Homo sapiens: one gene and its partners. The protein of the gene in region 2 binds, or shares a complex with, the protein of the main gene of each other region. Each region holds a gene or a part of one and is shown on either strand. Other genes may lie near its edges. The genes, in order: ORC2, ORC5 and ORC4. A codon is read from its position in the direction of its gene.

Evidence for each region.
Region 1: the proteins of ORC5 (region 2) and ORC2 are in contact, whole or in part, in a cryo-EM structure (PDB 7JPO), measured with the Homo sapiens proteins. Residues at the interface, in NP_002544.1 of Homo sapiens: Asp324, Lys325, Phe328, Leu329, Leu359, Asp360, Arg361, Ala364, Tyr367, Ser368, Ala378, Asn379, Phe381, Ser382, Gln383, Thr385, Ser386, Thr389, Asp400, Gln401, Leu402, Asp403, Tyr407; in NP_006181.1 of Homo sapiens: Val240 (codon at 6,900), Glu241 (codon at 6,903), Tyr243 (codon at 6,909), Phe244 (codon at 6,912), Glu245 (codon at 6,915), Ser248 (codon at 6,924), Asp396, Gln398, Arg401, Gly402, Glu403, His426, Asn428, Ala429, Pro430, Leu431, Met432, Trp433, Asp434, His435, Gln438, Trp445.
Region 3: the proteins of ORC5 (region 2) and ORC4 are in contact, whole or in part, in a cryo-EM structure (PDB 7JPO), measured with the Homo sapiens proteins. Residues at the interface, in NP_002544.1 of Homo sapiens: Ile17, Ser20, Leu21, Phe22, Gly23, Glu24, His26, His27, Phe28, Ser29, Phe30, Pro31, Tyr36, Gly37, His38, Thr39, Thr98, Phe99, Asn100, Val103, Arg104, Arg131, Glu134, Asn136, Pro139, Gly140, Arg143, Gln145, Glu146, Leu147; in NP_001177808.1 of Homo sapiens: Ser18, Gln21, Arg22, Arg25, Glu26, Cys29, Arg30, Gln31, Arg69, Thr74, Asn100, Leu102, Leu103, Gln104, Ile105, Ile109, Glu113, Arg116, Asp162, Arg277, Met281, Met284, Leu285, Asn288, Met311, Asp312, Ser313, Lys314, Asn316, Ile317.

Annotation. Positions count from the first base shown.
Region 1 is NC_000002.12:200,930,532-200,940,864, reverse strand, and holds part of ORC2 (origin recognition complex subunit 2), read left to right. Parts: intron 1-2,898; coding exon 2,899-2,959; intron 2,960-4,972; coding exon 4,973-5,166; intron 5,167-6,890; coding exon 6,891-6,989; intron 6,990-9,416; coding exon 9,417-9,526; intron 9,527-10,333. UniProt on the Homo sapiens protein: Component of the origin recognition complex (ORC) that binds origins of replication. DNA-binding is ATP-dependent. The specific DNA sequences that define origins of replication have not been identified yet.
Region 2 is NC_000007.14:104,127,889-104,138,221, reverse strand, and holds part of ORC5 (origin recognition complex subunit 5), read left to right. Parts: intron 1-1,328; coding exon 1,329-1,441; intron 1,442-10,333. UniProt on the Homo sapiens protein: Component of the origin recognition complex (ORC) that binds origins of replication. DNA-binding is ATP-dependent. The specific DNA sequences that define origins of replication have not been identified yet.
Region 3 is NC_000002.12:148,016,625-148,027,268, reverse strand, and holds the start of ORC4 (origin recognition complex subunit 4), read left to right. Parts: upstream 1-6,531; 5' UTR 6,532-6,636; exon of another isoform or gene 6,637-6,661; intron 6,662-10,644. UniProt on the Homo sapiens protein: Component of the origin recognition complex (ORC) that binds origins of replication. DNA-binding is ATP-dependent. The specific DNA sequences that define origins of replication have not been identified yet.

The DNA of each region.
Region 1 (10,333 bases), on a different chromosome or scaffold from region 2:
CATTACTCTATATTTTTATCTCCTCCTTTGTGGGGTTTTTTCTTTGTTTGTTTGTTTGTTTTTGAGACGGAGTCTTACTCTGTCGCCCAGGCTGGAGTGCAGTGGCGTGGTCTCGGCTCACTGCAACCTCCACCTTCCAGGTTCAAGTGATTCTTACACCTCAGCCTCCTGAGTAGCTGGGATTACAGGTGTGCACCACCACGCCTGGCTAATTTTTGTATTTTTAGTAGAGGCAAGGCTTCACCATGTTGGCCAGGCCGGTCTTGAACTCCTGACCTCAAGTGATCCATCCACCTGGGCCTCTCAAAGTACTGGGATTTCAGGTGTGAGCCACCACGCCTGGCCTCCTTTGTGTTTTTGTGGTATAATTTTCTCATTATGCCTTTTCAAGTGGTGAGTGTTCCATGAAAGGGCCATATATGCAAAGCATCCCCCAAATGCCAAAGGAGCCAAGAAACCAAAGGACAAGGCAGACAAGTTTAGTTTGTCTGTAAAGGGTATTTTATTAGAGACAGAAGCATGGTCTTGGGCAGCCACAAGACAGGTAGCTCTCTGCAGTGTTACTCCCCAGACCCACGGCTTACCTACCATAAGGAAAGGGTATACATGTTCCAGCAAGATAATTAAAGGCAACCCTCTTTAATTGTCAAGAGGGCAAGAATGCTATATGCATTGTAGCCAGTAATTTGTGTGATAATATCAAGGTTGACATGTTCTTTCACAGAAGGCAGTACATAAAGTAGGAATCAGGAGGCATTCATGAGACTGGGGCTAATCAGAAGTTAACGTGATGGATTAGCATCCAAGATGGAGTAACTTTTGTCTCCACAGTCAGTATAGACATTTAAGGCCATGGTTATGGCCTGTGCAGGAATGTCCTATTTAGACAAGTCTAGGTATGGGATTAGACATGCCAGACTTTCATTTGTCTTTAATAATGCTTTTTTCTTATGTCTTGTGTGTTCTATCACTATAAAAGGAAAAAAACTCATTGCCATAATCTAATCAAGAATTTAGATTATTCTTTCTCAAGTTATAGATTATAACCCATTAGAAGATATTGTCAACTCTCCCAAAAAACCAGAAAAACCTGTTGATGAAACAAAGCTACCTATCACAATAAGAGACAACATCGTTGTGACAGAATCTTAGTGTACTGTCTTAGAAAAGCAAGTTCAAGAGAAAATATGTATCGGGCTTGGGGATCCTGGGCTCAAGTGGCTTAAAGCAGGTTTTTCAAAATGGTAAACTGATTGGGATTGGGCAAAGTTAGGGACATGATATTTTAGGATTGGTAGACACAGTGAAGATCGTGTCTTAAAGTGTATCTTGATAACTAAACTGTTGATAAGATAAGCTGTTTGCCCTAGGAGTAATCTGTTGTCCTGATAGGGAGAACAGTTTGCCCAAATGAGCAAACTGTCAAGAGAGATTAGTTTGCAGAAATGTTCTATAGCAAGTAGGAAAAAATTATTTATTAGTCTTGTCTTTTTGAGCAGGAATTTTCTGCAGTGGTTATTTTGACACAGGTGTTGTGAATTCTCAGACTTAAGCTGTGTAGATATATATAAGTTATCTCAATACTCAATCTTGAAATCAGTTTAATAGGACATAAACTGCATTTTTAACAAATGAAGTAGAACAGAATTTTAAATTTCTGTTTTATAATTTTTTTTAGTTATATATACACGTGTACTGGGTCAAGATGACAAAATGTAAAAATTTTTGAGGATCTTGATCAAAAAATTTGAGACATACTGTAATTCCATTGGTAAGGGATTAGCTCAGTTATTAGAGTACTATTCTTTTTTTTTTTTTTTCCCCCTGAGGAAGAGTTTCATTGTGTTGTCCAGGCTGGAGTCCAATAACGTGATCTCGGCTCACCGCAACCTCCACCTCCCAGGTTCAAGCAGTTGTCCTGCCTCAACCTCTCGAGTAGCTGGGATTACAGGCATGCACCAGCACGCCCGGCTAATTTTGTATTTTTAGTAGAGACGGGATTTCTCCATGTTGGTCAGGCTGGTCTCAAACTCCCGACCTCAGGTGATCTGCCCGCCTTGGCCTCCCAAAATGCTGGGATTACACAGGCATGAGCCACTGTGCCCGGCCTAGAGTACTATTCTTAAAATCAAATCAGATTTTAATGACACCAGCAATCTATCACAAGACAATAAACTTAAATTTTTTTGTCATATTGTCATGTTGACAAAATCACAGGGTACTTTAACTTTTTTATCAGTACTATTAGAAATTTACAGGTATATAACAGTGGATGTTTTAATGTGCTAACAATTTATGGTATTAAAGTATTCTATAAAAAAACAGACTTTGTACTCCTACAAAAAGTTACAATTTTTTAAATACAGAAAGTAAGAAAGTGTAAATCTCTCCTTCTCTCCTCAAAGAATGTAATACTTTAACACCAGTAAATTTCTAGCACATTAAAAGGCCCATTGCCATATACATAGGGGTGCCCGTTCCCTTTCATACTTATGATTGCTACATAATACTATCTTTTAAAAAAATACTCCATTGGGCCGGGCGCTGTGGCTCACACCCATAATCCCAGTACTTTGGGAGGTTAAGGTGGGCGGTTCACTTGAGGTCAGGAGTTTTGAGACCAGCCTGGCCAACATGGTGAGACCCTGTCTCTGCTAAAAATACAAAAATTAGCTGGGTGTGGTGGCACGTGCCTATAATCACAGCTACTTGGGAGTCTGAGGCAGGAGAATGGTTTGAACCCATTTGTCATAATCTTCTAGTTCTAGGAACTAAGCTCATCTAGTTCTAATGCAGTCTATTGAAAGCAAAATATTTTTCTTTTTTTCTAGCCTCTTTCACTCAGATCAGTCATTAATTTCCATGTTATTATTTAATGCTTTTTCTATTTCTAAACAGAACAATGACAAAAGTGAATTTCTGTCAACAGCACCTCGTAGTCTAAGAAAAAGATTAATAGGTACGTATTTGTTTTTACATGACTTTTTATAAAAAGTAGCATCTAAACAAGAGGCAATAATAGTTAAGTATATAGGTTCTAGACTTAGACTGCTTGGTGTTTTGAATCTTTGGCTTTTAGTTGCAACACTTAGCACCATGTCTTTCACATTGTAGTCAGTGTATATTGAAGTCAGCTAAAAGGTCTTTCCAATGAAATAACATGCCTTTTAATTGTTTTGAGACAGTTTGGAAATTATTCTATTGATTTATTTGGAAATTTTATAATGAAATAATATTAAATATTCATAGTTGTACTGAATGCTAAACAAAGTCAAGTAAACAGACATGGCTTCTGCCTTCTAGGAAATTAAAAATCGTTTCAGATTTTTGAATATTGAACTTTGAGGCAAATGACTGGACCTTTATATATCAGGAAGATGTCAACACCTTTCATAATGTTGACCCTTGACAATAATAGTATTAGTCAACATTGTTAAATTCAGCCTAACATCAGGGCTTCATACTTCATAGCCCTTTCTTTTCAAGGTATGGATTTCATAGAGTTGTTAAAACTGTATTTTTAATCACCATAAAATTGGTAATGCTAAATGATTTGGTATATTAAAGCAGTAAAAGATCTGTATAGTTGTGATTGTTATTTCATGTCAACTATATCCCATGTCTTATGTTTTCTCCTCATCCCAAATATGGGTTGTTTTTTAGAGAGAAGGTGAACTTCCCTCTTCCTTCTTAATCACCACAAAACATATATACCTACATGGAGGAAGCATACATGTAAAGAAGGTAGAGATACTTTCTGGTACCTGCCACCACTTCTAACTGTGCATGTACCACGAGCAGCAGTCAATGCACACCTGAATCTGCTGAGCTATATATGCCCACAAAATCAAGCCTTTTTTTTTCTTTTTTTTTTTAATATCTACATTTGTTACATGCTGACTTGGGATAATCCTCTGCAGTATATCTGTTGTTCAGAATAAATATGCTGATTTGTTTAAGTTTTTTCACTCATATTTTGGAAGTTAGCTTTTAAAAACAGTTTTATGCCTGTTTAGTGTGAAACTGGCTTTATTCTTATTTGATAAATGTAAAACTAGCTATATTATTTCTGGGGAGTTGTAGGGATGAGGTTGTGGTTTGTTTAAAAAGACAATTCTTGAATCAACTCTGGGATGGTGTATGTGTATGTATTAGTAATAATTATAATCATAAGTACCATTTATTGAGTGCTATATTAGTTAGTATGACGTTTTCAGTAGGCAGCAACAGAAAATTCTATAATGGTAGTTTAAGCCATAGACATTTAAGTATCTCACATCAAAACAAGTATGGAGATGCAAGTTCCATGGTTGATGTGACTTAACAGTATCATTAAGGACCCAGATTCTTCCTATCTTTTACTCTGCCACCAGCATTTTTCATCTTTAGGTTTGATACTTCATATTGCAAAATGGCTTTCATAGCTTTAAACGATGGGTATAAATAGGGGCTTTTCTTCCGTAATTGAGGAAAATCCTTCTCAGAAGCTGCCAGCTATTTTCCCTCAATTCACTGGTCAAGGGGTCACATAGTCAACCATAGTTGGAGCAGAGGCTGGGAAAGCAGGTACCTTGAAGAGGAAAAAGGCAGTTACCATGATTCATCCCCTAGGATGGGGCATATTGCCATATTTTGCAAAATTGGAGTTCTGTTAGCAAGGAAGAGGGAAGGAGAACGGTGTTAGGTATGATTAACAATTTCTATCACAGTTCCTGTGTGTCAGGAATTATTAGTGGCTTTATATACATTTCAATGTAATCTTCCTAATGGTTTATTAAACTATGTACTATTAATTTGATAAATAAACTGGTGCTGAGAGAATTTGTTAATTAGCTCTGGTGAAATCATGAGCAGGTAATGACAAAACCAGAATTCAGACTCTTACTACAGAGCCCCCACTCTTTGCTTTACCCCACAATGCCTCTCTTGTCAAACCATGAAATTGTCCAAATTGCTATTTTTCCCCCCACAGTTCCAAGGTCTCATTCTGACAGTGAAAGCGAATATTCTGCTTCCAACTCAGAGGATGATGAAGGGGTTGCACAGGAACATGAAGAGGACACTAATGCAGTCATATTCAGCCAAAAGATTCAAGCTCAGAATAGAGTAGTTTCAGCTCCTGTTGGCAAAGAAACACCTTCTAAGAGAATGAAAAGAGATAAAACAGTAAGTGAAGAGAGAGACTTTAACCTTAAAGAAAAATTGTGTAATATTTCAAAGATAGGCTACCCTAAGAGATCCACATCTCTCAAAATAATATTTTTTCTTCACTTTTCTATATTTTCTCAGCCTTCCACATAAATTCCCACATATATTTGTTTCTACTTCTGGGCTTTCTTTTCTGGCCTGTCTACATATTCATGAATTAATACCATAGTATATGCTAAATAGTATATGCTAAAAGTGACATCTCAATTCCACTGTATAAAAATGAACTTTTTAGGCTGGGCACAGTGGCTCATGCCTGTAATCCCAGCACTTTGGGAGGCCAAGGCGGGTGGATCACCTGAGGTCAGGAGTTCGAGACCAGCCTGGCCAACATGGTGAAACCCTGTCTCTACTAAAAACACAAAAATTAGCCAGGTGTGGTGATGTGTGCCTGTAATCCCAGCTACGCGGGAGGCTGAAGCAGGAGAATTGCTGGAACCCAGGAGGCAGAGGCTGTAGTGAGCCGAGATCATGCCATTGTACTAGCCTGGGCAATAAGAACGAAACTCCGTCTCAAAAATAAATAAATAAATTTTTAAATAAGCTATGGGATTAGAATAAAAAATAACAAAAATAAAAAATGAACTTTTAAGTAAATATTGATTGGACAATTGGAGGCATGAGTTCTCAGTGTATCTTGTTTTTGTACCATTGTCAATGTATTCAAGTCAGTGTAATGAATGATGTGGCTAGGGACCCATGTTGAGTCATTTGGAAGAACATTGCAGGCACCTTGGTTTTAGAAAAGGCTAATTATCCTGGTGCTCTGTCTAAAGGTTCAGAGCAATTGAGGAGCCTACTGCTTAAATAGCTTTCTGTCCCTTCCTTACCACCCTAGAGTTTAGTCCTGCCCAAAATCAGAAGAACAAATAGTGTGAGAAGAAAATTCCGCTTGACTGGAATAGTAGGCCAGTTTTTTTATTTGTTTGTGGGTTTCTTTTTTTTCTTTTGTTACCTTGCAGTTGATTTCCTCATTTTCACAGTACTTCAGCTATACTAATATTAAAGGATTTGCTAAGACTATTTGAAGCCAGGCATGGTGGCTCATGCCTGTTATCCCAACACTTTGGGAGGGCAAGGTGGGAGGATTGCTTGAGGCCAGGAGTTTGAAACCAGCCTGGATAACATAATAAGACCCTGTCTCTGCAAAAAAAAAAAAAAAACAATTTAAAAAATTAGTCAGGTGTAGTGGTGCATGCCTGTAGTCCCAGCTACTTGGAAGGCTGAGGTAGGAGGATCCCTTGTGCCCAGGAGGTTGGGGGTACAGTGAGCTGTATTTGCACCACTACACTGCAGCCTGGGTGACAGAGTGAGACCCTTCCTCAATAAAGAAAGGAAAAAAAAAAGACTTACTTGAGGAGAAACAAAGATCTTGATATATAAAACCATCTCTCTTTTTTTAGTCTAAATGGAAATTACATATTGTAACTTAGGAATCATTTTTAGGAACAGACTACTACTTCACCTAGTCATTTCTTTAACTTATATGATCCTAGTAATTACTCAGTTTTATTACTGAAATTAAATATGCTTGGTCCTTAACTGGTACTGTTGCTTTAAAAAGAAAATACTACCAAGTAAAGAATTTCACGTGTCCTATTTTACATTAATATTACTGTCTAATTTTGATATGAGACAGATATTTGAAGCTACTAAGGACTGACTACTCTGTTCACTTTCAGAGTGACTTAGTAGAAGAATATTTTGAAGCTCACAGCAGTTCAAAAGTTTTAACCTCTGATAGAACACTGCAGAAGCTAAAGAGAGCTAAACTGGATCAGGTATGTTACAAGGAATGTTACTTCTAAATTTTTTTTACTCTGTCCTGAAAAATATGCTACGTAAGCAACAGATTTGAAAAGTATACACAAGTAGAATTATTGTCCTGATCAAATGAAACACAAGTTAATGTGATTATTACTTCTTTTATTATATAAATAGTAAATAGGCCGGGCACACCTGGCTCATACCTGTAATCTCAGCACCTTGGGAGGCCAAGGGAGGAGGATTATGTGAACACAGGAGTTTGAGACCAGCCTGGGCAATATAGGGAGACCTCGTTGTTACTAAAAATTTAAATAAATAAATAAATAATTTACTGGATTAGACAGACTGTAATTATGCATTTTTCCCCTCTTACTCGTTTATTATTTCTTCAGGATCTATGATAATCATCAGGGTCATAGTTCCTTGATATCCATTTACCATTTATCTCTGTTATTCATTTAACCTATATGTATTCACTAAATCTCACACTGGTCATAAAACAGCAACTGCAACCTGACTTTCTCTCAGTTAAAAACTTTGCACAAAGTAGAGGATATTCTGCTTGAGGATATTATGGAAAACCTGCCCAGTGTGGTAAGGTAACAAGATTACTATGTACCATGGTTCCAGTAGCTCATTTTACAAAAAAAAAAAAAAAAAAAATACCATACAGTTATACTTGCTGGGGTTTTACATCTCTGTGAGAGGAGACAGAACCATCTGAGTGAGAAAATCTTTGTCAGTAATAATTGCAATTGATAATCTAAGTCCTGGCTCATTGGTATTGAGACTCGGATCAGAGAATATAAGCAATATGGGAGAAGGACACATGAGTCTAGACTCACAATAGGACTTCATCAGACTTAGAGGCAAAAAGATCTCTAGGAGGATGAAAGAAACACCTGTCAGTGAGGGAGACGAAAGCCTTTCATTGGGCGTAAACATAGCATAGCTAACCAATACAATCTTCAGTAGCATGTGACAATAAGCATTTTTCATGTCTGCAAGTCAGTCAGAAGTTGGCTGATCTAGGATTTGCTCCATGTTTCTTTTCCTCGTTGGACCAGCAGGCTAGCTGAGGCATGTTATCCTCATGACAGTGGCAGAGGCATAAGAGGAAAAGTGGGAAAACACACAATCTCTTACAGCCCAGGCTCAAAACTAGATTGCCAGTTCTGCTTCATTCTAGTACAGCTGGATATTGGGGTCGAAAGTGCAGTTTTCCATGAATATTAATTAAAGTTTGAAATGAGGCTGGGCATGGAGGCTCACACCTGTAATACCAGCACTTTGGGAGGCCAAGGCGGGAGGATCACGAGGTCAGGAGTTTGAGAGCGGCCTGCCCAACATGGTGAAACCCCATCTCTACTAAAACTACAAAAATTAGCCAGGCGTGGTGGCACGCGCCTGTACTCCCAGCTACTCAGGAGGCTGAGGCAGGAGAATCGCTTGAACCTGGGAGGTGGAGTTTGCAGTGAGCTGAGATTGTGCCACCACACTCCAGGCTGGGTGACAGAGCAAGACTCTGTCTCAAAAAAAAAAAAAAAAAAAAAAAGTTTGAAATGAAAGTACATACATGAGATAACATTCTAGTGTTCACACTCAAGTGTGAATATGCTCAGATAATCTAGTGTAAATGACTGCTGGAAAAGATATTAGTGCTTTCTCTGCTTTTTCAGGGCTCTGAACTCAGAAGAGATAAGAGTTGTTTTTTTTTAACTACCTACTTAACAATTTTACTTAAAGGTAGTTCTGTTTGCTTTAACTGTGACTAAATAAACACAGTACAAGCCAGAGTACCTGGAATATTTATCGCAACTCTAATCTTCAGTATTTAAATAATATTTTACTTGAAAGGTGGTGGAATCATGAAAACATGGTAGTGCCAAAGTGAAGACCCATGTGTAGCTTTTTGCTAGAGTTTTCATTTCAAAAAATGATCTCTGATTCATCAGCATGAATTTCCAAGTTTGGGGTACAGGGCAATGCACTTTCCTCAGTTTATTTATATTATTGTTTTTAAAAATTTGCAATACTTACCAAAGATAAAGGATTTGTTAGAAACAGCTTTTGGAAGAGGAGCAGTGATATAGGTTTATTTTACTAATGATAATAGTAAGTAAATTATAAAGAACCTTTAATGTTTTCTGAGAAAGTAAAGCCTATTCTTGGAGTTTATAATCATTTAAGTGGTTCTGGACAAAACTTACCAAATTCTTTACTGTTATTACTAAAAAGAATGTTAACAATTTTAAGAAAACAAAAAAATTATTTTTTAAGAATTTTGTTTATCGGTTGATATACTCATTGCCAAACCAGATTAAAGTAATATTCCAATTGGATTGGCTTCTTCTAAGCTCTACTTCTAAGGAAATTGTTTGGATTGATTTGCTGTCTGTGCTTTGAGAATGACTTTTTTCCCCTCCTCCTTTTTTTTAAAGCAAACTTTGCGTAACTTATTGAGCAAGGTTTCCCCTTCCTTTTCTGCCGAACTTAAACAACTAAATCAACAGTATGAAAAATTATTTCATAAATGGATGCTGCAATTACAGTAAGTATTATCATTACAAACCCTTGTAAAATAAAGAATAATATTTACATGAATCTTTATGTTAAAGTAAGTTAACATTTTTCTTTTTACAGTGAGTTTCAGATATTTAGTCATATATAAAAATAAATGTAAAAATAGACATTATGACTCAGATATAGAAATGTCACTTTATTGTATGACTCTTCCCAGAAATTCTACAGTTTTTAAGAAATTTGTGTTTATCAGACTTGACAGCCATTGATAAGATAAATAGCATTTCTTAGAATTATGTTATTGGTTTAAAAAACTTGAATATTTCCTTTGTCAAGATTAATAAATATAACAATTAGAAAAAAAAATTATAAAGTTTTCCACAGCATAGTTCTTTAAATGAAAGGATAATATTTACTTTAATCTTATGTATGTGTACTACAGACTTTCAGAATTTTATGAACAGATTTGTTCTATAAGCATTATTTTACTATTTTAACATTATTTCCTAGAATATTTTTTCACTGTTATTATTTTCACACACCTCAGATTAAATTTTAAATTTCCATTAAAACACCTAGAAGAATGATTGAAATCAAAACATAATACTTTCTTTTTATGATAATTACTTTTATCCTTGCAGTTAAAAAGACTTGAACATAAGGAAGTGCTTAAAATGTACACTAATGTGAATATACATGCACACTCACAGTTACATTGTCACTGAGGTAAATAAGAAGGTAGAGCCATGGACCAGGCACTTGGCCTCCCATAATCCCAGTGCTTTGGGAGGCCAAGGCAGGAGGATTGCTTGAGCCCAGGGGTTTGAGAGACTCT
Region 2 (10,333 bases):
AATCAGTTGTTGAGCTAGGAATCTTGGTTGGGCTGAGTGCAGTGACTCACACCAGTAATCCCAGTGAAACAGGAAAAGTTCCCTTGTCCCCCTTCCAGGGGTAGTGGCTTGCTTCTTCAGTGTCCCGCTGCTCAAACCTCTAATGGGAGCATGCAGACGGGCAGGTTGTGGGGCTCCAATCTCACGGCCGCATCTAGGGATGAATGCTTACAGCTCCTGAAGCCGCAGTGGGCGTGTTACAGTGTGCTCTTTTAGTTTTGCCATCTATAGGTGGCTTGTGTTAGCTCAATTAGACCCTCTGCCTTATTGGAAGGAGAGAGGGCTTTCTGTATCCTTAGTTCTTGCCTTGCTGTACCGAAAAATCCGATCAAATGTGGGCTTGGAAAATGAGTGCAAGGTTTTATTGAATAGTGGAAGTAGCTCTCAGCAGATGGTTGGGGAGCCCGAAGGAGGATGGAGTGGGAAGGTGGTTTTCCCCTGAAGTCTAGCCGCTCTTGGCCAAACTCTGTGTTGTCCCACCGTAGGTGGCCTGCTGGCATCTGCTGGTGTCTGCCGGTATGTTGCTCTCGATGTCCAGCCGCTTGCTTGTTCTTCTGCCAGTGTATTCCTCTTAACGTCCAGCCACTTGTATCTCTACCTGCTAGGGTCTCGGGGTTTTTATAGGCACAGGATGGGGGCATGGTAGCCAGGGTGGTCTTGGAAAATGTAATATTTAGGCACAAAAACTGAAATGCCAGCCCTTACCTAGGTCTGTGGGCTCAGACTTGGAGTGGAGCACTAGCCAGGGACCATGGCCTTCTCTGCCCAGCACTTCCCTGCCCCCCTCCTGTATCACCGACCCTTTGGGAGGCCAAGGCAGGAGAATCACAAAGCGAGGAGTTCAGGACCAGCCTGGACAACACAGTGAGACCCTGTCTCTACAAAACAATAAAAAATTGTTTTTTTTTTTTTTGTAGGCACATTTAAAAAATGTGCCTGTAGTCCCAGCCACTTGGGAAGACTGAGTTGAGAGGACCACTTGAGCCCAAGAATTTGAAACTCCAGTGAACTGTGATCAAGCCATGCCACTCTAGCCTGGGTAACAGAACGAGACCATATCTCTAAGAAAAAAAAAAAAAACAAAACTAGGACTCTGACAACTAGTCTTGGTTGTTAGACTGGAAAACATATGTACAAATTTGTATTTACAGATTGCAAAGTAGTCATTTTCTTTGCAGACGTTTTTTGTGATTCAGTTATGTATCTTTATCAGACTATAAGATGTTTCAGAAACAAAAGTATTACATAATCTTATTAAAACAGTTTCTTATAAAAATGTTCTCTTTTAGATTACCTCTCTAGTGACCCTTCAGCTGTTAACCCTGGTTGGCCATGACGATCAGCTTGATGGACCAAAATACAAATGCACAGTGTCTCTAGACTTCATCAGAGCTATTGCAAGGTAAAATGTCTTGAATTATGTAATGATATACTAAATATAAAAATTAGTGTTTTCCAAATGTGATGTCATTAGTCATGACATTTAAACATGAAAAAATCATCTATTTAAGTGCCAAGAATGAATAAGCTGTACGATAGAATGAACCTTCTCAAATTTACAAATGATGTAAAACTGGGAGAAATAGCTAATATGTTAGAGGACAAAAATCAAGATTCTGAAAAACCTTAATAGGCTGGAATAAATGATCCCATAGTGGCAAGGTAAGATTTAATGGACAGTTGGCTACAGAAAACTCTCTTGTATTGAAATAAGATGGGAGAGAGCTGGCTTAAGTCCTAAATTTTTTAGCTGACTACAAGGCTTTAAAAATCCTGACTTAGGTAACACTGATAGAAATATAGTGTCTAGGTCAGGGGACATAATCATTCTACTGTGCGTTGTCACAGGCAGATCAAATCTAGTGTGCTGTGCTGTGTTTAGAGTTTTCAGAGAGACAAATGGATACATACTGAAGGGGCACGAGGAGAGTGGTAGAATGAGGAATTGTGTCACATCCCTGACTGAAGGACAGAGTGTGAGAGAAAAGCCTTAGGAAGGACATGTGAACTGTCTTAAGTGTTTCAGGGGCTGTCGTGCAAAATGAATGAAGCTAATTCTGAGTAATTCTAGAATGTTAGAAGTTCTGGGGAAGAAAGTACATTTGTCAAAATGAAAGCTGTCTAAAAATACAAGTTTCCTTACAAAGAGGTGTTCTTAGTGTTATGGAAAATGTTCAAACCATTTATATGAATAAGTGACTTCATCATACGGTTGCAGCTGGATAACAATCTGTCAGGACTGTAATGGAAGAGGTGATGAGTGTGTAGACTGGCAGAGTGAACAGGGCAATCCATAGACAGTGTGTTCCTAATCTTTTTCAATATGAAGATTCCATTTTAGCACCCTTTAAAAATTAGTCATGAAAGTATTTACATATATTTCAAAATTAACAGTATTTAGGCATGAGACATTATTTTGTTCAGCCTAAAACAGTGCTTGATATCAGTATAGATTTGCAAATCTCCTCTGATGATTAATTTTACAGCTTCTTGAGGTTCTGAAGTCCATAGGTTGGCAGCTTCTCCCTGAAGTCTCTTCTGAATTCAAAATGCTCTGAAAAATAAATAAATAATAAATTATTGAATGAATGGCCAGGTGCAGTGGCTCAGACCTGTAATCCCAACAGTTTGGGTGGCTGAGGTGGGAGGATTGCTTGAGGCCAGAAATTCAAGATGAGCCTGGGCAACGTAGTGAGACCCCCGTCTCTATAAAAAATGTTTTTAAGTTCTGTGATAATATGATGCAGGTATTTACCACATTTTTGTGGCATATAGGCTGTAAAACATGAATTCAAGGGTTTTAGTGTTTCATTTTAATAAAACCAGGAAAACTTTTACGCAGAGAAAATTGAGCAGAAACTTATTTTTTAGTGTGTTAAGTATAATCACAAAGCAATTACTTCCTTTAAAAAAGCAATTATATTGGAACTTTATATCTAAGAGCCTCTATCCAAGGCATAAATTTGGAGTGAAGCCTGTTCATTTCAGGGATTTTATTACTCTGAATATGTTAGGTTGTGCCCCAGTATAATCATGTGCAAAACAGAAGTTTGTGGGTTCCTAATATAGTGAATCTCCATTGAATCTGACTTAATTTGACGTTACTTAGTGCAGAGCATCACAGTGATGGATGTTAGACACATCCAGAGACATGCACTTTCATTTACCACCTCAGAAGGAAGCAAGAACTTTAGACCTGGAATCTTGACATAGAACTTGGGGGCTCTGTAACTTTCTTTTGTTTTCTTTACTGTTCCCTACTTCCCATGGGCAATATCCATAGAATAAGCACCCGCTCCTCCCCACACCTGCCCTCTTCCATTCTCTCATCCCTGTGTTTTGTACTTCTTTTCTGCTGACTTTACCTTTCATTCTTTCCCTCCCTCCCATGTGCCTTAGGAATTATTATTCTCCTAATAGTCTTCCTCATTGCCTTAGCTAAAACCTGATTCCTTCTTTGGGATGCTGCTTCCCCTGGACTTACCTCTAGTTGTAGCTATGTATTTTCTCAAACCCTAATCCCTCAGGGTTGGAGGTCATTTCGGTGCCATCCTTCTTGTTGCCACTTCCAGACTGTTACTGCCCCCAACTTCTTATAAAAATGTGGACTTCCTTGAGACTCATGCAATCTGGCTCTATTTCCCTATTCTCCTTAAGACTGATTTTTGTCTCTTCAGCCATTCCACCTCATGTATTGAGATAATAGGGCACCTGGTATCCAGACTTCTTTTCCACCTAATTTTTTTTTTTTTTTTTTTTTTTTTTTGAGATGGAGTGTCTTGCTCTGTCGCCCAGGCTGGAGTACAGTAGTGCGATCTTGGCTCACTGCAACCTCTGCCTCCCGGGTTCAAGCGATTCTCCTGCTTCAGCCTCCTGTGTGGCTGGGATCACAGGCACACACCACCATGCCTGGCTAATTTTTAGCAGAGACAGAGTTTCACCATGTTGGCCAGGCTGGTCTTGAACTCCTGACCTCAAGTTGATCTGCCTGCATCGGCCTCCCAAAGGCCTGGGATTACAGGTGTGAGCCACCGCGCCCAGCCTCCACCTAAATTCTTGACTCTGTTTAAACCCCACATTCTAACGCCTGAGTTCATTCTGTTCAGTCTTCACTCTGTTTCACAGAACAAGGTTGAAGCCATCAACTGAGAATTGAGCTACCTGTGTTAGTGTCCATCTTCTCTTTCTTTCCTTTTTCAGCAGGATGGGGTTCCTCTTCCTAAGGTAGATTCTTCTACCTATGCTCTGAATTCCATCTCCTCCACTTTCCCAGAACCTTTGTTAGTCTCGGCTGTTTGTCCTCTCAGTGGCACCTGACACTGTTGGCTACTCTTTCTTAAAACTCTCTTCTCTTAGACATGATTCCACAGTATTCTGGTTTTCCTCTTTATTCTTTGGTTGTTTTTACTAACAAAGGCTATCTTTACCATCTGACCTTTAAATATAACTGTTCCTTTAGGCTTGGCCCTAGGCTCTTTTCTCATATTACATTTTTTTCCCTAGGCAACTTGAGCCACACCTGTGACTTCAACAATCATCTGTGTATTAATAATGCCCCTGTTTTTAAAGACCAGACCTATTTTTTATAATATTCTTGACCTTTATTGCTGTTTCCCAGCTATATTAATACATTTCCAAAACTGAACTTAGGAATTCTAACCTCTGCTTCAACCCACCAACAAAAAGTGAAATATCTGGCTTTCCTCCAGTGTTTCTTATTTCAGTGATAAGCACTGCAGTCTGCTGTGTTACCCAGGCCTGAAATTTGAGTCCTTCTTGACATCTCTCTCTCCCCCACTCCTAATATTTAACCATTAGTCCTATTGAGCTTACAAAGCCCCTCTTATTTGTCTCAATTTCATTCACTTGTTATCATGATACTTTTACCACTCTAGATCAAGCCACCATCATCTCTTCTCTAACAGTCTAATTGATCTTCTGTCTGCTCTTATCCTCTTATAATTTATTATCCATGCTGTAGCCAGAATGATTTTATAAAAATTTAATGTCACCCTGCTCATTAAAAATATTCAGTAGTTTCCCATAGCTCTTGGGATAAATAACAGAATCTTTTAAATAACTAACAAGGCCCAAATGATCTGGCCCCTACCTGTGCCTAGCCCCATCTAGCACATACACCTTCTTTCCTCGGTATCTGCACTTTAACCACTTTTTTCCATTTTTTATATTCACCATTCTGCTTCCCATGCTTGTATATACAGCATTTTCCAGCTTCTTTTCTCCTTCACCTAGCTAACTGCTACATAACCTTTAGATTTCAGTTTAAATGTCTGCTCCTTAAAGACGCCTTCTCACAAATACCACAACCACCATGATCACCCCCCCATACCACACACACACACGATTTGGAAGTTCCCATTTTGTTCTTCATTATATGTAACAAGTTTTACTTAAATAATTGAGTAATTAGAGTTCATCTTTCTTTCTAGAATACAAGCTCCTAAGCTCAAAGCAGACTGTGTTTATGTCTATCACTGCCTTATCCTCAAACCTAGCACAGTGCTTTAAACTTAGTATGTGCTAAATAAATATTGCATGTTTTCCTATAGTGATTAGCAGTAAAAATTCAGATGAAGGGGAACCATATGAATTTGTTTTTGGGGACAGCAAGAAGGGAGCTCAGAGACAGTCTCATTCCAAATCAAGGCTTGATGGGAGAGGAAGTCCCAAGGATAGTTACCAAAGAAAAGGAAGGCTGGCCTCATTCCAGACACCTGTGGCAGAGAACAAATGAGATAATAGGGATCACAGGATATAACCTAAATGTCTAAAATGGCAGTCAATCAATAGCATCATGTATTTTTATAGAGTTATTGAAAATCACACTTTTGAAGGATAGTAACTTGGGAAAATAACTCATGATGTAAGCTTAAGTGCATGTAACAGTTCATATAAAGTTGCATATACAAGAAAACTAGGAAACTGTAAGGGACAGGAGTAATGGTCAAAAGTCAGTTGTCACCAAGAAATCAAGCAGAATCCTCTGATTTACTGATAAAGCAGTCATTTGTAGCTTTATCCAGAACACTTTCAGTGGTATGATGAAGTAGAAGTCATATTGTAGTATTTATGAGAAAGTAGATGTAGCAAAGAGAGATAATGTTTTTCATTCGTTTATTTAACATTTATTGTGTTGCCCATTATAAACAAAACACTGTGGTAGGCTTTGGGGAGATACAGCAACAAGTATAACATAGCTATATCCTATTCTTATTAGCCTGTATTCTAGGATTCATTTATTTACTTATTTATTTGCTATAAAGGAGAGAGAGTATTTTTTTTTCTTTTTTCTTTTTCTTTTTTTTTTTTTGAGACAGAATCTCACTCTGTCACCCAGGCTGGAGTGCAGTGGCACGATCTCGGCTCACTGCAGCCTCTTTCTCCAAGGTTCAAGTGATTCTCCTGCTTCAGCCTCCCGAGTAGCTGGGATTACAGGCGTGTGCCACAACGCCCAAATAATTTTTGTATTTTTAGTAGAGATGGGGTTTTGCCATGTTGGCCAGGCTTGTCTCAAACCCCTGACCTCAGGTGATCCACCCACCTCGGCCTCCCAAAGTGCTAGGTTTACAGGCATCAGCCACTGTGTCTGGCCAAGAGAGAGGATTATAACTGCTGAAGGGGTTATGTGGTTGAGAGAGGGTTATTATTTATTTTTTAAAGATTTGAGCATATTTAAATGCTGATAGGAAAGAACAGATAGAGAAGGAGAGTTAATGATACAAAATGGAGAAAGATTAATTTAAAGCACAAAATTACTGAAACGTTATATAAGCATGGGGTTTAGAATTTGAGTTGCAAGAGCTGTAGATGAGAGAGCGGAATCTTCTTGCGTTATAACAAGAGAAAAAGATGGATTCTGATGGAGCTGAATTTGGAGGTTTGGTGGCAAAAAGTTGAGGGAGTTCTGATCTGATGAATTCCATTTTCTCCGAGAAGGAGGAGACAAAATTGAGACTAAGGGCAGAAATAGTAGCAGTTTAGAGAAATCTGGAACATTTGAAATAGCTGCCATGGGGAATGGAAGAAACTGTTGAAAGGAAAGCAGTTTGTTGGGAGTGTTGAGGTTTTTGACCTTGAATTTACTTACAATGGCACCAATCTGTGAGACTTGTGATCTTCTCCAACACCAATCCATGTGCTAGAGACTGGGACAGCAAAGAATTATAATCGAAATCACATCGTACTGGGGTTTTGCCAGGTAAGTTCAGTGGATTCCAGCAAGTAACCACTTGACCTGATGAATCATGGAGTCTTAAGCTAGGACGGGCAGGAAGGAAGTAAAGCCAGTCGGGGGCTAATAATTCAGTGCCTAGCATATAGATACTCAGTTAATGTTTGTAGATCAGGAAAAAATGAAGCCATTTGTGAACTGATTGTCCCAACATGTTCCAGATAGCAAAAAAGGGATAAATTGGGGATCATAAGGTAGAATGTCTGAATTTATTTCTTTAGAAGTAGAGCATTTCTGAGTGTGATTATGAGAGTGGAAAAGGTTATTGGAGGTAAGAAAGAGAAATATATAGTGAAGTCACTAGGCTGACGCAGGTCTTGGGTTGGAAAGGAAGACTGAACTGTATGCTAAATTACTCAGTGACTAAGGGATGGCGACAAAGAGGATGGGGATGGTGAGCAGAATGGTCTTAATCTCAGAGTAGCAGAGCTTTTTGCACAGGACACCAGCCCCACCTGACAGAACTGTCCGGGGGTACAGTAGAGAGTTAAACATTCATTGGAAGGAGCTGAAGAAAAGACTATGTCCTTTGAGGGGAGCCTAGTTTCAGTTAAGCCTGGAAGGGGAAAATAACCATTCCTTGAAGAGATAGAGGATATAGAGACTACAGTGGAAAGGTTTGGACAGAGAAGCTGTAGGAAGCTGATTCTAGAAAGGGAACATAGAATTTGGAGATAGAGTATGGGAGAAGGCAGATAACAGATGACTGAAAAGCTTACTAAATTTTGTTCTTGGATTGTTCTTAATGTGAATGGTAGTTACACATTTTCAATTGTTTTTCTTCCACAGTCAGTGGGAAGACACTATAAGATAAATAGAGGTTACAACTTAAAGTTGTATGGTTGCAAGTTGTCAGAAAAAAAAAAAATTAAAAAAATCTCAAACTCAAACTGCCCACAAAAGTAAAAGGAAACAAAATAGTATCCTAAAGAAAGAAAAAGTATTTTAATGAATCAACAAAATGAAATAAAAGGATAAAGGCAAAATTAAATCCTTAAATATATGCCATATAATTAAGTTGTATTAACGTATTCTAAATTCTGATTTAAGAATTACTCCTAGGAAAATTGCCACCACACTATTCGTGTTTACTGTATTTCTTTCCAGCTGGTTACTTTAGAAAATAATTCATTTATGTTCTGTGGGAGAATCTCCCATAGTATATTGAAAGTTATCCCAAAGTTTAAAATTATACTTACGTGACTATAATATGCATCTGTGACCATGGAAAGCCAGGGAACATCCATGCAAATTACACAATTCTCTTGTAAGTTATACCTTTCTTTAAAGAGGATTGTTTGTCTTCAAGTACTTTAAAGCACAAAATTATCTTTCGGATGTGTGGCATAGTTTTTTATGTTGCCCCTGTGATTATTCTAACAAATTCTGCCATGTCTTAAAATAATATATGTGAGATCAATTGGCAAGTTACCTATTTATATTGGGGGTGGAGGAATGGTAGAGATAGTGATACATCTTGGGAAGTAAATGTTTCTTAAAGGAATGATTTTATATTCAATTCCTGATCGATTTTTTTTAATCTAAAACTCTTACTATGATTCAGTTTGCATGAATACTTACCACTGACAAAGTACAGAAAGGGAATATAATGAAAGTTTTATGAACATTTAAGTTGCTTAGTGTTTTTAAGTCACTCCATTCATTCTATTAAGTCTGTTCTGTTATTTATTTATTGTACAAACTATTCTAATGCTATAGTAACAAACAGATTTCTCAAAAAATAGAGAAGTCCTACAGACATCACAATATTTTCATGTATTTGTGCTCTTCTAGTACTAGTCCATTAGACAAACATTTCTCTGCAGCCGTCACAACTTACTTGCAATTATTTCTTCTCCCTTTCTCCCTTAATATTGCTGGTATATCTTCATATTGATCATTTTGTATGGCTGTATAATATTTCATCAAATAATGTATTGTAATTTATGGATTCTCCTAGTTTTGGAATTTAAGTTGTTTTAATCTTACCTGCTTCAAAAATTTTGTTTTCACCCAAGTCCAGAAAAAAAAAAAATTAGCAACACAACATTAAGTCCATTTTACCATATTACTTTAGGTTTATAACCTAAGACCCAAAGTCATTGTGGAGAAATGTGCCTGGAGAGATGTACAAATACCACTTGCCTTTTCTGTCCGTGGTTAAAAGTAGTCTATAGGTGGGAACTGAACAATGAGAACACACGGACACAGGAAGGGGAACATCACACTCTGGGGACTGTTGTGGGGTGGGGGGGAGGGGGGAGGGATAGCATTAGGAGATATACCTAATGCTAAATGACGAGTTAATGGGTGCAGCACACCAGCATGGCACATGTATACATATGTAACTAACCTGCACATTGTGCACATGTACCCTAAAACTTAAGGTATAATAATAATAAAATGAAGTTTAAAAAAAAAAGTAGTCTATTATATCCGTTTCCTTTCTATGGTCCTCTAAATAAGATCTTTTCAATCAGTATCACGATTTTTTAAAAACCATGTGTTGGCTGGGCGCGGTGGCTCACGCCTGTGATCCTAGCACTTTGGGAGGCCAAGGCGGGCAGATCACCTGAGGTCAGGAGTTCGAGACCAGCCTGGCCAACATGATGAAACTCCATCTCTACTAAAACTACAAAAATTAGCCAGGCGTGTTGGCACATGCCTGTACCTTCAGCTACTTGAGAGGCTGAGGCAGGAGAATTGCTTGAACCGGGGAGGTGGAGGTTGCAGTGAGCCGAGATCATGCTATTGCACTCCAGCCTGGGCGACAGAGCAAGACTCCATCTCAAAACAAACAAAAAGAATCATGTGTCAAAAGTACTTTGGTGCCCATAAATTTGGGTGTTTCTAGAGTTGAACGAAAGAAAAACATATAAAATAACTTTATGATTTAATAACCATACTTTTTGCGTCTTTATGCAAAAGATTTTTTTTAAACTTTTTAGTTCTGCAGTATTGTTTTGGCAGTTTTATACCATTTGGAAAGGCTTAGTATTCTTCAGAGGCACTGTTACAATGAAGCAAGTTATTCTTCAGTCC
Region 3 (10,644 bases), on a different chromosome or scaffold from region 2:
ATACCAAAATATTTCTGACTTTAGTACTAAAAAGAGTACATTAAACTTAATCCTATATATGTAATGTAGTAATTATGAAAATGTATGATAGAGTCCAGAAGGTAATGTGTATACATACACCAAAGCACAAGACAATATAAACTTCCCATTTTTTATGGGCTTTTACACCATCAACACATTTATATTAAAAATTTTATAGTAAATATTCATTGGATCAGAAATTGTTATAACCTTTGAACTTCATATAAGAAAATATTAAATGTAACTCCACACAAGTTAAAGGAAGTTTAATACAGATAAGGATTGAACTGAACTTTTTTTTACTGTTTTTTTATTTGTTTATTTATTTATTTAGAGACAGGGTCTCACTCTGTTGCTCAGCACAGAGTCCAGTGGCATGATCATGGCTCACTGCAGCCTCAACCTGAGTTCAAGAGATCCTCTCCAGCCTCCTGAGTAGCTGGGACTACAGTGTGCACCACACCAAGCTCAGCTACTATTTTGATTTTGTAGGGATCAGATCTCACTACATTGCACAGGCTGACCCTGAACTACTAGCCTCAAGTGATAAATCCTCCTACCTCACCTCCCAGTTGTTGGAATTACAGGCTTGAGCTATTCCACCTGACCTTATTTTTTATTTTTAGAGACAAGGTCCCGCTCTGTGGCCTAGGCTGGATTGCATAGTTCGCTGCAGCCTCAAAATCTGGGGCTCAAATAATTCTCCCGCCTCAGCCTCCGAGTAGCTGGGATTACATTACAAGCGTTGAGTCACCATGAGCAGTTCCCAAATGTCATTTTTGCCATACAAAGAAAAGACTGACATTATGTATATTTTAAATTGTACAATGGTCTGTATCTACATTCCTTATAAAAGACTGGGTTTTTTTTCTTTGTTTTTCTGTACTTGTAAACTTTCAGAAATTTTCCATTAGTCTGTGAAGCTATCAGGGCCATAATTTTACCATCGCTTACCAGTGTACAGATTGATAAAAACTCTACTGTGACTGTGTTTTGAATTAGAAAGTGTCATAAATGTAATGTGAATTCAATTTATCACAGTGCTGGGTACTTATAATCAATGGTAACTATGATTATTACTAAAATAGAAAGTTAAGAATGAACGTGAAAGAGATCAGAATTCACCACTCAGGAGTCTATTTATCTTCACAAGATACTGCACCAGCAGAGGCATCCCCACCTTCTTTTTAACTGCAAATCAATACTTTTGTAAAAGGTATACTTTAAGAAAGGCAAATTTAATCCAGTACTTTTTCTAATATACTTTTCGATTACACATGAAAGCCATGACAGGAACTGAGATAAGATTCTTTGTTTTTGAAACATCTATCTACTAAGAAAATTCCAAATCATTTTACTAAAGCTATAGAGATTATACCACTTAATAAAGATTAAAAATTACAACTGACTTAGAACTAGAATTGGGAAGTTTCTTATGAGGATTTTGCAATGATATTTCTACTACATACTAAAAATTCCAAAACTCCTAAATAGTGCACACTAATTACTGCAGAATAATTAAATCATGCTGTTAGATTTGCTAAAATTTGGTAGAAAATATCTGAAAACTCAAAATGAAAATGTACAATGTCTTCCAATGAATCATGAATGATAATCTGTTATATGAGATAAAAAAGAAAAAAGTTACTTTTGAGAAAAAGATTTAAGTTTAGAGGGTTTGGGGTGTTTTTTTTTTTTTGGAAAAATTTAATGAGATAACTTAATGAACATTGTTGGTCATCTTAAAAGAATTACGGTTAGCAATAAAAATCCAGCAAAGGCAACCACATAGGCTATTTTCATTGTCTAAAATGTGTTAACTATATACAGAATATAAATCCCTAGAATACAGTATTAAGTGGAAAATTTTTCTTTATATATTTGTATTTTAATAAAATAACAGCAATATCTTTCTTAAACATGCATTTTTCCACCTAACAGTATCCATTTAGTTAATATAAAATTTATTTAGGTAGAAACACCAAAACAAAGATACGACCAATACACTTGTGGAATACAATTAAGATAGCTCTTCACATTAAACTGCAGGGACCATCTTTGTTTTTCAGATGCCTAGCACAGTGCCTGGCAGACAGCAGATGATCAAAAGATGTTTAATGAATCGCTAAGTACAATCTGTTTTGCACATACAGTCAAAATCCAGACAAGTTTGCAAAGGTACATAAGTTGGATATAGGCTTTCTGGCTGACTTCATGGGGGTCCCACTGATGACTAGGAGTAAATCTTCATATCCATAGAAAACTGGAAAGTTGATAATTGTCTGGGTAAGGACCAAAAAAACAAAGTCAGGGAAACATGTCACCTAAGTAGCACTTGTTTTATAGAGCTGGTAAAAGCGGCCTAATCATTCCAACAACCTATTGCACCGGTCAATGAAATTTAAGTGCATCCTGAACAATTTTTACAAGTATATTTTTAACTGGAATGTGTTGGATCATTATTGCTTATTCATAATATATCACTTTTGCCAAACTGCTTCCTGTATAAGAAGGGAATATGTCTTGTTACTATGAGTACCATATTGTTAACAGTATTTAATTTGGCTGTTAATTAGATAAAATGAGAGCCACAGTAGAGATAAAGAAAAAATGTTCATGATAGTGAAAATTGTGGCAAGGGAGGACAAGAAAAGGAGAGGAAAGGAATTCCACATATGGAAGTAAAGAAATTCAAATATGCCTAACTCTAAAACTAACATGGATTATGACAAGCTACCAGTAGGAACTACTGTGTACCAGATATTGTGCCAAGAGTAGAAGGATGTGTTAACAAAACAAAAATGTTTGTTTTTAGGCAGTTCATAGGGCAAGACTCACAAGTAAGCATTTATAAGAGAATATGCATTCCATTTATTCTTATAAGTATGGGCCCTTAATACAACAGTAAGTATATTTACTGATTAATTGTAAGTGCAGGAGGAAAATAAGTATTAGAGAAAGCTGAAATTATTTTCAAAATAGTAATAACCTACAATAAGTGCAATTAGTACTTTAAAAAATTAACAAATTACTAAATTTAAGTAGACAAAATAATAGCTTTAAAGCCATTTACCTTAATATTCTTACAATAACATGCTCCCATATGAAACCCTCAAGTGGTATACCCAGAACTGTACATAATAGTTTCATTTCTGACAAAGGAAATGAGGTAGTGCAGCATAGTGAGCATCAGGAGACCTGAGTTCCCTGGTCCCTGCTCTGTCACTTCCAGGCCTTGGAACCTCAGGCAAGTTCAAGTTCTTAGAACTTCAGCAATAGGTAGAGTTGGATAAAGTGACCTCCAAGATACCACCCAGTTGAACAATTACAATCCTAAAGTATCAATGGTTCTTAATACTTAAAAAGGTTTTCTAAACATAAATCATTATCCAACTTAGATAAAGTCTGCAATCTTCTAACCATAAAGGATCATGGGGGTGAGGGTGAGGGGTGTGATAAAAAAATGTTTAAAAAAAAAAAAGAAACAAAATAAGGAAAGACATTAAACTCAAGACTAAATTTTTACTCAGCTGCCTACTGGGCAACTACCACCCCAATTATCTACATAATTCCCTTACCTAAAATTAATTTCTTCAGTAAGTTCTACTGTCTCTCTCTTACCTTTAAAGTTGCTGAGGTTTTAAGGTGAGAACAAGAAACCTTACAAGGACTTGGAATGGCAGTATTGATGTTGGGAGAAAAACTTGAACTTGGCACAGATTTCTGCTTAAGTGCACTAATTACATCTCAGAGAAAGGTAAAAAATTGTTCAAATTTATAACAGAAGGGAAATAAGATCATATTGTTTACTGCTATAAAGCTTTTTTATTTCGGTATGTAAATGTCTACTTTTGCACACAGTTGATAATTAAAATTTTACAGAACAAGTTTCTACATATGCAATGCTTCACTGTCACTAAAATATATGTTTTAGCTTTAACCATCAAGAAAATAAAAAATTAGAAGTATTATCATGTCTTTATAATATTTTTGCCAAATATCCTTCTAGATTTATATTTCTTCAATCCTTTCTAGTTGATCAAATTGCTGTTTTCATATTGCCAGTCTGATCACAAAATTGCTGCTTTACAGAAGAATATTTTTTGCTGACATAAATTATGGGATCAGAGATACCAATGCAGTTACAAAAAAAAAAAAAAGGGTGTGAGGGAGAGAGAGCGAGCGAAAGAGAGTGTGTGTATATGCATGTGTGCATCCATCTTCAAGGAAAGAATAAAGAAATGTATATATGAAACAAAATAACACTTTCCAATATAAGCCCTAGTAAAAGGCCTACATCAGAAACATACTTTCTAACATTTGTGAAATAAAATACAGCACTGAATTTTAAAGCTATGCACTAAGAACACATTATACAAAAATGAAGTGATTTTTATCAATATTGTTATTCCATAAACTTAAATCTGGATTTACCTTTCAATTTATAGCTAACTGAAATTAATATACTAACTATAAGTTCATGATTTCTTTGACTCATGAAAACATATTTTAGAAATTTGTGTACTTTTACATACAGTGGGCAATTTGGTTCAGAACCCCAAGAGAAATTGAGATGAAAAACTCATCTCAATTTACAACAGTAAATAAATAATTCAGCTAAAACTGAAAGTGGTACCAATCCAGCAAACTATTGATGGAGAGGTTTGGCCTTCCATGCAGCCAGAACAACATAAAGTTTTCAATGGGGATTACTTGTTCAGACAAGTTACAAAGATTACAAATATACCCAGATTAATTATAAAATAGCTAATATTCTCATCATATGGAAAATAAGTATCAGGAACGTATGTGGGAACAGACAATAGCAGTGGCATTTAAACTTTAAGCATTTTAGAGCTTTGGACTTTATATACTGATATATGAAACAGACATTTAACCAAAAAAAAAGCAATAATGCAAGTCAAAACCTAACCAAAGGCCTCTACCAACTAAAAATTTGAAATTTTCCATGGAAGTCAGACAAAACGAAAAAATGGAAAATGAAACCCTTAAAGCAAAAACCAATCAAGTCTTCCAACACTGAAGTCAATATCCAAATCTCATACAGGACCAAAAAGGGGAAAACACTCAGGTCTACAAATGGATAAGCAGTTCCAATACAATCCAGATCCCGACATTTTCCCACTCAGAAACAAATGCAGTGGAGCTTTTCCTGGAGAAAAAGAGCTCTCCAATGAATTTTTTTTAAGTGACATCTAGAAAGTGTGCCTCTTTCTGTCTCTTTCCCTGGCGCCTCATTGGAGGAAGGAGGGGGTTGTTTTTGTATTCTCCCCCACTGGAGCAAGACACAATCAGATGTTAGATGGAGGAGAGAAACCACTTTTGACAACAGCAAATAAAAATAAAAGTGCCCTTCCTCCCCTGACAGGATGGGCACCCCACCTCACACACCCCTCCCTACTCCAACCCCTCCTTCACCCCCCCCAGCACCACCCCCTCCTCACCCCGGAGCTCCACTGCGTATGTGGTTTGGTGCTACTGTTGCCCCGGAGTGAAAGTCAGAGCCAGAGGAAGGCAATGAAGCCCCCACAGACACACTTACCTTTCCTGCCCCCCACTTTTGAGTGCCTTCCCTGGAGCTGTGGAGGATGACACAAAGGGTAATAAAGGGGGGGAGTGGAGGAGGAGGAGGCGAAGGAGGAGGAGGAGAGCTGGGGAAGTGGCTGCTCCTGGGTGTAGTGAGATGTCTCCAGCCAGGGCCAAGCAGCAGCAGTAGCAGCAGCAGCAGTAGCAGCAGCAGCAGCAACAGCAGCAGCAGCAGCAACAGCAGCAGCAAAGGGTCTGTGTTGCTAAGAGGCTTTTGGTTTCTTTCTCTCCTCCTCTCACGGCCAAAGAGGAGGAGGGTGGAGGGAGGGAGGCGAGTTGGAGGGGTGAGGGGGTAGGAGTCGTGGATGGGGGTTTTCGAAGAAGAAGAAACTCCTTCTCCTCTCTCAGGCTCAATCCCCCTCTCAGGGCTCAGGGCTGGAGGGTGGGGGAAGGAACTCAGCCGCCTTCCCCCCACCCCCCTGAATTCAAGGTTGAAGTGGGGTAGAATTAGTGTCCTGTCCCTTTAAAAATAGAAATAAAAGGTGCCCCCCCTCTGCCACTGCCTCTCTCTTCATCATCAGCTGCTGCTGCTGCTGGGGTCTCTCTGCTTGGGGGGGAGGGGGGGTTCGGGTAGAAGAGACGGGAGGCACTCACTGCGCATGTCCCTCTCTGACGGGTGGCTGGTTGGTTGAAGGCAGGAGGAGGGGGAGGGGAGGAAATGAGCTATTTTCCCAGAAGGCGTCGAGGCGCTAGCGACCCGGAAGACATTGTAGCGGGAGGTACAGGAGCGGGGGCGGGGAGGAGGAGGAAGTCGCTACGCTTTTAACACCCCCAGCTCCCTCCTCCTTCCTAAGGGAAAGTGGAGGAACGGAAGTGGGCGTGGACGGAGACGAAAGGAGGTCACGTGTTTGGGCGGGAGAGGGGCGGGGTGGGAGAGGTAGTGCGTGCGCGGGGCATGCCGGGAGTGGTTGTGTACGGTCCGCAGCGGCAGGTGAAGTCTAGCAGAGGACGCGGCCAGGCGATTCGGTGAAGCGATTCCTGCAGGCGTTGGTTCCCCTCTTTGACCTGGTAAATGCAGGCTTTTATGCGAGAGGTAATGGTGGGGGTAAACTTGCTGCAAACGAAGGCCAGGGGCGTCGGTGGCGCAAGGTGAATCGAAAGTGGGAGGATGGAAGGCTGTGGAGATTGGGAATTGGGAAGGGGGCAGGCTTGTATAGGCCGGGAAGGCCAGGACCAGGCGAGCTCCGTCTTGTGGCCACTCCCGCCCCGTGAGCTTGCCGAGGAATCCTTGACAAGTGCAGGGATCCTGAGTCTACCTCTGCATCGGGGTAGTAGGTGAGGAGCGTGACGGTCCGAGTGTAAGAGAGAAGGGAACTGTGAAGCCTCAGCAATTGACCCTCATGACTGCAGGACGGAGGACTTCTATCTAGGGACAGAGACAAGTCCTCTGTATGCATTTTGACCAGATGCATCACACGCGTTGCTCATATTGGATATTGCGCCCTTCATGCCTTACCTCTCAACCCTCCCTGGTATTCTGGAGTGGCTTTGGGGAAGGAGCAGGCAGGGAAGTCTTGAGTGGAGCTTCCCTCCATGTCTTGCGTTGTTGCTACAACACAAAGCCTTTGCTTTTTCTCGGAGAGGGATGTGGGATTGTGTAGTCCTTAATGTTGAGTTCTACGATTGATGAAGGAGAAGGGACGTGATCAAAGTTTCCCCTTATAGTGTAGATGAGAGTTTTAAAAGGACTGTTTTGTCAAGTTTCTTTGGTTACTATTCTTAGTTTTTGAGCCTTTGGTTTCCCAAATGCCAGCTGTTTTTGCTGAAAATAATGAATTTCTATCATAAAATTAGAATTAACTCAAAATATTTAAGAAAGGATTTATAAATTTACATTAGTAAAGCTTTTATAGTGAAACAGTGCTGGTTCTTTTTCATTGTTTTCATACAATCAATATAAAGCATCACAGTCTCAATATGTTTTGTAAAGATATTTTGAAGGAATATCATCTTTGTATGTTTTTTAAAAACCAAGAATCTAAAATTCTTCGTATTTATTATGTTGGTACTTAATTCTGTTGGGTGGGTTCTTTTTGTTTGTTTTTTGTTTTGAGACGGAGTCTCGCTCTGTCTCCCAGACGAGTGCAGTGGCGCGATCTCGGCTCACTGCAACCTCTGTCTCCTGGGTTCAAGCAGTTCTCCTGCCTCACCCTCCCGAGTAGCTGAAACTACAGGCATGTGCCACCACGCCTGGCTAATTTTTTTGTGTTTTCAGTAGGGACGGGGTTTCACCATGTTGGTCAGGCTGGTCTCGATCTCTTGACCTCAAATGATCCTCCCGCCTCGGCCTCCCAAAGTGCTGGGATTACAGGCGTGAGCCACCGCGCCCGGCCGGTGTAGGTTCTTTAGGTGTACACTATCAGTTAAAGTTACTAATTTTCCACGTTTTGCTTTCTGTAAGTTTGGGCAGTGGACCCCGTTTATGCATCATTGCTTAGCCCTTAGTATCTTCTGTATTGTGTACGGTAATCATGTCCGATGGAATCAAAACTAGACTCCTGTGCTTTAAAATTTTCTTTGTAGTGTAACCAATTGTCTGTCTTTATAGTGTAACCAATTGTCTGCCACTTTGTAATGAAAAAAAAAAATACCAGCAAGGCAGTTAATGTGCCTTAGCTACAATTTTAAATATTTTGTGTCTTTTTCCATACATTTAGTATTTAAGCATACAAACATCGATACATAGTATAATGAAAAACTATAAAGTGTGAACTCTATGTAAGCGCTGCCACAGTCAAGAACTAGAACGTCTGTGGCACCTGAGAAGCTCCCCTCTCCATTCTATTCCTGATCATCCCTTTCCTCAATTCTTTTCAGTGGTTAACACTATACTGATTTTTATGGCAATCATTTACTGCTTTCTTTCTTAGTATTTCTTAACCACCTATGTCAGCATTCCTAAGCAATTTAGGTTCGTTTTGCCTGTTTCTTAATTGTATGTAAGTGGATTATATATTACATATCATTATGTATCTTTTTCTCTCATGCAGCTGGGATATAACTCTATTAGTACATTTAGCTCTAGTTCTTATATTGGATTGTAGTAATCTATAGTATAATAAGTATAGTATAAAAAGTCTTAATGGAAATGAGCCACAGTTTAGTCTAATATTAATAAACATTTGGATTGTGTTCCGTTTTTAGTAGTTATGAACAATGCTATTATGAATGTTCTTGTACATGTATTCTTAATGTACATTACCATGGGTTTTTGTAGAGTACGTATGTTTATCTTCAACTTCACTAGTTATGCCTTTTCCAAAGTAGATACACCAATGTATACCCCGACAGCAGTATATGGTAGATCCCTTTACTTTTACTGTCTCACCAAGAGTTATTTTTCCTTTTTCCCAACTTGATGAATGTGGCTTTATCTTATTGTTGTTTTAATTTATTCTGCCCAGGACACTAAAGAGTTTGAGCACTTTTTCAAAAACTTACCGGCTATTTGAATTTCCTCTTTCTAGAATTGTCTTTTTAATTCTTAAATCTTTTGTGCATTGTCTTTTTAAATCTTTTTGGGAGGTTTTTTTGTTTGTTTGTTTTTTGTTTTAATTGGGTTGTCTGTTTTACTCAGGGATTTCTAGCAGTATGGCCAATATCTTCTCTGTGCTTGGAGCATTACTCTCTTCTGGGATGGCAACTTTTATCTTCATGTAGGTCTTATAGGCTGTCATTGTTCTTTGAATTGTATACGTAGTTTAAACTCCAGATAACAAGTTCTATGCTTGTGCTATTCATTGCAGTAGCTACTAGCTGCGTGTGGCTTTTGAGCACTTGAAATGTGGCTAGTATGACTGAGGAACTGAATTTTTAGTTTTATTTAGTGTTCAATTAAGTTTAAAAACTGACACTTGATTCAGTTACTGTAAAACCTGTATGTTTGGAACAACTCGGATACATAAACCTTTCTTAACCGCAAATTATTAAATTATTATTTTTTAATTTTTGGAGATTTTTTCCCCCCTGGAGATGGAGTCTCGCTCTGTTGCCCAGGCTGGAGTCCAGTGGCATGATCTTGGCTCACTGCAACCTCCGCCTCCCAAGTTCAAGTGATTCTCCTGCCTCAGCCTCCCTAGTAGCTGGGATTACAAGCATGTGCCACCACACCTGGCTAATGTTTTTATTTCTAGTAGAGGCAAAGTTTCACCATTTTGGCTAGGCTGGTCTCAAACTCCTGACCTCAAGTGATCCACCCACCTTGGGCTTCCAAAGTGATGGGATCACAGACGTGAGCCACTGCACCCGGCATTAGCTGCAAATTATATAAAAATATAGATCAAGTATTTTATATGGCAGTTTTAATTTAGCATCTGCATTGTAATGTTGTATAAACACCATATTTCAAAGACAGTATGAAAACAATGTAAAATACCTCAGCTTTTCATTATGATTACATGTTGAAATTATAATTGATTTCACCTTGTTTTCTTTTAGTGTGAACAATAGAAAATTTTAAATTACTTATGTCACTTTTACTGTATTGCTGCTGGACAGTACTTTGAGCTAGATGTTCCTATGTGTTTACCATGTCTTAATTTCTTCCTGCGTCTCTGACTTTTCTTTTGGAATCTTTTAACTTTTACTTTAGCACACTCAGTAGAAGTTTCATAATGCAGACATTCTGATGGTCAGTTCTCTTAATTTTTTTGCTTTGTCTTAATTTTTTGTTTTGCCTTCAATCTTGAAGAATGTTTTGGGGGATATTACAGATTTGTGGTTGTTTTACTTGTACCTTGAAGATAACATTTCACTGTTTTTGGTTTTCATTATTGATTTTGAGAAATCAGCTGTCAATGCATTAGGTTGGTACAAAAGAAATTGTGGTTTGGGACAGCGAATTTTAAATCATTATAACGAGGCTCTAACATATCTTTATTAATTAAAATAGGTCATTACAATCAACACATTTTTGCCGACAAGAAATAAGTTTGTTTTTTCCTGTAATGTAAAAATCCATGCTTCAGGATTCCACAAACTCTTGGAAAGCTTTTTCCTGCATCCTGCTGGTTGTGG